2 separate regions of the Homo sapiens genome follow, and region 2 is linked to region 1. Evidence: fine-mapped expression QTL. Tissue or cell type: whole blood. Region 1 holds a variant in brackets; the other region holds the start of a gene. All regions are shown on one strand. Distances are from middle to middle.

Region 1 (2,684 bases):
AGATCACAAGAAAATGGCATGAGGCTATGTCTGTTGACCATTGATTAGTAACTGTGTTTTAAAATTTATGTTATTTAAAAAATATTTTTGTGGCTTAAAACAACACACATTTATTCTCCTACAATTCTGGAGGTCAGAAGTCCAAAATCAGTTTCACTGAGCAAAAGTCAAGGGTTTAGTAGGCTTGGTTCCTTCTAGTAACTTTATTTTTTATACCAAGGATTGTATATGCCAGTTTTACAATATCCATTGTGAAATGCCTCAAAATGTCATGCTCACACGTGTCTGGGGCTGTGGTATGGAATCTGCCCTTTTGATTGGTACTAGAATGTGTGGCCACCATATTTGGACTTCGTCCAATTTCTCTCCTCTGGGACAGGAATGTTTTCAACCTCATTCCTAAAATGTAGAGAATAGGTAATGTTCTATATTTTTGTGTATTATATACATCTAAAATACAAATACAAATATAAAATAAAGTTAAAATAAAACAATACGCTCTTCAAAAAGGTTGTAAAGCAAAGCAAGTCCCCATTCTCCATTCATTGCTGCATGTTCTACATCATTTGGCTTTTCATATGCTCATGTTGCCAAAAAGGAGTAAGTAGTAAATTATTCCTTTATCTTAGTGGAGACATAGTTCATCATGTTCAAATTATCAGTATTATAACATTTAAAAAATCTGGAAATTATCCTGTCATCGGAAGACAAAACAATCTTAGAATTGTTACTTATATTTAAGACATATGTTTCACACTGGCAGGTTCTAGTTATAAAATTAGGGCTTGTTTTTCCAGTTGAACAATGTATTTGTTTAAGGGAGGACTCCCAAAACAATTAAGTCACTCAGAGTGCTTCTGGAATCTGGCTTTATGAACTTTGATCCAAATCATAACAATGCTAGTTAAGATGCCCTGGGGATGGTTCTGCAAGTTTCTGCTTCAACTTTTCTAAGGGAAGAGTTCAATATATTTTCACAGATACGGTTTTAAAACTTCAGAGAAACTTCATCCACATGTCCTCATTTGTGCCTTATCCAGTTCACAGTCATTTTTCTCATTTCCAAGTTATTGTTGTCCTTTCATTTTCTATTCCCCATCTGCGGGGCCTGTGGCATTGCTGGCTTGGCCTGTTAGTGTTCCAACTCAGCTGTAATTTTAATCTCCTTCGTCAGCTGAAAGGAGAGACTTCTAAATAATTCCTTTGTCTTAATGAACTCATTCATAAAAGGCATTTTCCCCATTTCCCTAATTTTCTGGGCTTAGAGACTTTCCTAATTGCAGTTACTACATATCCTCAGAAATTTCTTCCCATTCCCACAATAAAAAGACTGACTGGATACCTTCCCACCC[G/A]AGCCTCCTCTGTGTGTGTGTGTGTGTATGTGTGTGTGTATTATGGATGGTAATCAGTGGTGTGTTTATAAAGTCGGAATAATTTCTATTAAGATTGAAATAAAAACTTTAATTTCCATTTTATGTGTGGAAGTCATATCCTGGAACAAACTTTATAAGAAATGTGCAAGGTCTTTAAAAAGAAAACTTAAAATGCTGCTGTCCTTCCTCACCCCTCACCACACACACACTTGAAAATACGCATCTAAACTCTGCGATTAATTTTTCAGACCCATTAAAGTGAACTCCTCTCAAGATCTGTGCGTTTCATTGTGTGAAACTGTACTTCAACTTAACAACAAAACAAAACCTGCTATGAGAGTTCCAAAATAAGACTTAAATAGAAATGCTTAGGATATTTTGGATAGGAAGATACAACAGCGTAAAATCAGTTCTCTCTTAATTTACATATTTAATGCTGCCCCAATAAAATACAATACTTGTGTTTATATGTAAACTAAATAAGCTGATTTTAAAATCAGTATGTAAAAAATAAGAATAATCAGGAGAATTTTGAAAAAGAGAAATGAGAGTAATTAGCTCTAACATATAAGACATGTTATAAAACGATAGTAATTAGAACAGTATGGCACTGTCACATGAACTGGTAGTTTAAGGGCACAGAATTAAAAGTTCCAAAATAGACCCCAATATTTCCAAATATGGAAATTGAATGTATAGTAAATATGGCATTTCAAGTTTGTAAAGAAAAGATGGAGGACTCAATAAATAGTATTTGAATAACTGCATAAACATCTAAAAAACAGCTAAGTTGAATCCATGTATTTTTCTTTATGCCAAAATAAATACCCCTTGGATTAAAAAATTAAACCCATAGATGAGGATAGAGATGAAACAGATGGAACATGACTTGATAATTTGTTCAAGTTGGGTCCTGGGTACAGGGCAGGGGGTTTATTACACTATTCTGTATCTATTGTATATTTGAAATTCTCCACGATGAAAAATTCAAAAAATGAAATTCTTAAAAATATTTGAAGAGAACAGGGAATTTAAAAAATCTTGGCGTGAAGAAGGGCTTTCTAAATATGACAGAAAACTGAGAAACGATATGAGATTGATACATTTTACTTCATTCACTAACTTATTTATTCCACGAAAATTCATTTAACACCTTCTATGTAAAAAAAAAAAAAAAAAAAAAAACCACTGAGAAAAGCAAGGAACAAATGAAAAGTGGGGGAAATTTTTCTAACTTACAGAAAAGGCCGAATTTCCTTAGCATGTGAAGATGCTCTAGACTCTACAATTCTATTGGAAAAATTAGCCTAC
Region 2 (2,684 bases), 92 kb after region 1:
CTCTGAGGCTGTTTCCCCATTTTTAACAAGAGATAATGGTGCCTTCCTGTTGTGAGGATTAACTGGGATATTGTGCTCAAAGCCCTTAGCAAGATGCCTGGCACACATAAATGGGAATATCTGCTGTTAATTATATTATGGCTGCACTCTGATGGACAGAAATACCTCCCTGGGGGCATTTCCAGAATCCCCACTTCTGGAGCCCATCTCTGAGGTGGCCCTGGATATTTGGGAGGCCTCTCTGTGCCCTCTGCCAGGGCTCCAGCGGGACCTTCCTGCTTCTCCCCACGGATCCGGCTTTCTGGTCCCCAAACCGCATATTATCTGGGCACACCCTCCCCTTCATTTACCCAGAGTGACCAAAGTTCCAACCACACCTCTCCGGGCAGCCTGTCCCCAAATTTCGGGGAAGTGGGCAGGAGGGGGAGCTTTGCCGGGCAGGAGGGGGAACTTTGCCAGGCAAGGGCTCCGCGGGCAGAGGCGGGCACTGGTGAGGCCAGCCTCCTCCTGGGGACCAAGGTCGGGCGCCCCTGCCCAGCCCCTGCACCTGCCCCTGTCCCTGCCCTGTTCGGCTGCGAAGGGACTGGGAGGTCTGGCGAGGAAGAGCCTGGAAGATCCCCGCCCACAGCTACCAGCCCTCCTTTGGGACCGCTGGCCAGAGCCCCAGCCGTGGGGCACACGGGACCTGTGGACTCAGCCGGGGTCATCCGGAGGGGCGCCCACATCTGCACCCGGGGCTCCGGAGCCTGCTCCCCGCCACTGTCGCCGCCGGCCCTGCCTAACCTGCGCGGCGCAAGCGGCTTCCACGCCTAGGGAAGGAAGGCACACGGGGTGGGGGCCCCGGAACCCGGTTTCTCTGCCGCCGGGCGCACGTGGCTCGGTCCCAGGGGACAGAAGTCGCCTCCAGACGTGTGGCGGCACCCGAGGTCCGCGCAGCGACGGCGCAGGGTGCAACCGGGCGGGCGTCTCGGGGACCGGGCGCAGCACGCAGCCCCGCGGAGACCGGGGGAGGGTACACTCACCTCTGCGGCCCGCCGCTCGGAGCGACCGCGGCAGCTGAAGGTCCGCGGCGAAGGCGGTGGCTCGGCCCGAGGCTCCTCCTCCCCCGCGCCCCACCCGCCCGGGAGGGCCGGACCTGCAGGGGAGGTGGCCGCCCTCCAGCCCGCCGCAGCTTATCCGGCTCGGCCACCTCCCCCGGGGCCGCAATCAGGAGCCGCCGGGTCCTCGCTCCCCGCCCAGCCCTGCACAGCCCCGGCAGCGGTGGCAGCGTCCAACCACCCTCCTCCCCTGGCCCCAGGCGGGAGGTCGCCAGCCGGCGCCAACACTTCCTGATTTGCAGTGCCCGGCACACGGCTGAAGTGAGCAGAACTCCGGGACCTCCTCTTAACCCGGCCACGGAGGGCACCGAGGCCAGGGTGACCTCTAGGCCCCCCTCTCTTAACCTGAGGAGCACCTCGAATCCTTGTCCATTTTATAACCGAGGCCAAGTGGCAGCCACGGTTGCAGGTGGGAAGAGACCAGGGCTCCAGATTGGGTCCGGATCCCTTCCCTCTCAACAAGGTTGCGCCCAGGCCTTTGTGGTCCCCCCCCAATCTCTGTCCCTTGTCCACCCTTAGGGCAGACTTTTGACCCTTCCCAGCAGTCCTCAGGTTCCAAGACCGGTGGGATGGCGGGTACCTTTCTCCCGGAGCTGCCTCCCTGTCTAGGCCTTCTGGGCTCTGAAACCCTACCCGTCCCCCCTTCCCCCTGGGGCACTGCCCGCTGCCCTCCGCACTTCCAATGCCGATGGCTTCACAGCACTGCAGCGAAGCAGGGCGTAAGTAAGGGGAGGCTGTCTGTGGGCACCTCTCTAGAGGTGTGCGCCCTGGTCCGAAGCCCCTTCTCACCTGTGGTCACATTTGCCGGCTGCAGTTATTTTCTTTACAGGTGAGGAGACCCGGGCTTTTCCGCTCAGATTCGTGGAGGCTGAGTGGGGGTTCCTGACCCCTGGTACTCTTTCTAGAGTATTCCTGGGAGACATACACTATTAGCCTCTGATAAGGAGCTTCAGGTTATTTTTAGGAAGTCTAAGAATCCTGTTTTCTGGGGAGCCAGCCTCTGTTGGGGAGATAAGCCTCCGGAGGCCAGAGGCAGGAGCTGGGCCTCAAGGAAGGCCCCACAACTGGACCCCAAAGGGCACGGTGGGGAGGAAGAGGCAGAGCTCTGGTCTCCCTGTGGAGGGAGTGCTGCTGTAAAGCGCCTTTCCCTCCACCCCCAACTCCCGCCGAGAACCCCCCCACCCCCGCAGGCAGTTTGCTTTCCCCCTCCACAGCTTTCCTCCTACCCGAATACCCACCTCCCAGCTCTCTGCTCAGCCAGGGCCCAAGGCCAGAGCCTCTCTTCTCTTGCAAGAACTTTCCTGTCCCACCTTGCCCCAGGGCAACACCTCTTATGGCAATTCTTACAGGTCCTTTATCCATTCAACACTCACAGTGCCCCAGGTGCCAGACAGTGCTCCCAGTGCTGGAGACACACGTGCCCAATGGAGGTTCCTGCCCTTAGGGTGCCAGGGCTGGTGAGTGGCCCCTGCAGTGGGTTGTAAACTTTGAGAAGACAAGACCCAGTTCCTAGCCCCCTCTGGTGCCCCTAATATGCTCCCCCTGCAGTAGCTGTTCTTTTGATGCCTGCTCCTGCTGATGGGGATG

The links. PIP is the estimated chance that this variant, and not a neighbour inherited with it, causes the effect.
Region 2: STEAP3 starts here. The variant in region 1 is fine-mapped to the expression of STEAP3 in whole blood (TOPMed, PIP above 0.99). The same link has a PIP of 0.9 or more in blood mononuclear cells.

The regions. Positions count from the first base shown.
Region 1 is chr2:119,313,889-119,316,572 of GRCh38, reverse strand. All of the region lies in intron 4 of C2orf76 (chromosome 2 open reading frame 76), which reads left to right. Among named protein-coding and RNA genes, the nearest start is that of C2orf76, 52 kb to the left of the region's middle. The variant G/A (reference allele first, on the strand shown) is at 1,353.
Region 2 is chr2:119,222,227-119,224,910 of GRCh38, reverse strand. It overlaps STEAP3 (STEAP3 metalloreductase), which reads right to left and starts at 1,077. Exons shown (of 6, transcript NM_182915.3): 1 at 1,023-1,077. RefSeq lists silencers at 425-494, 555-1,334.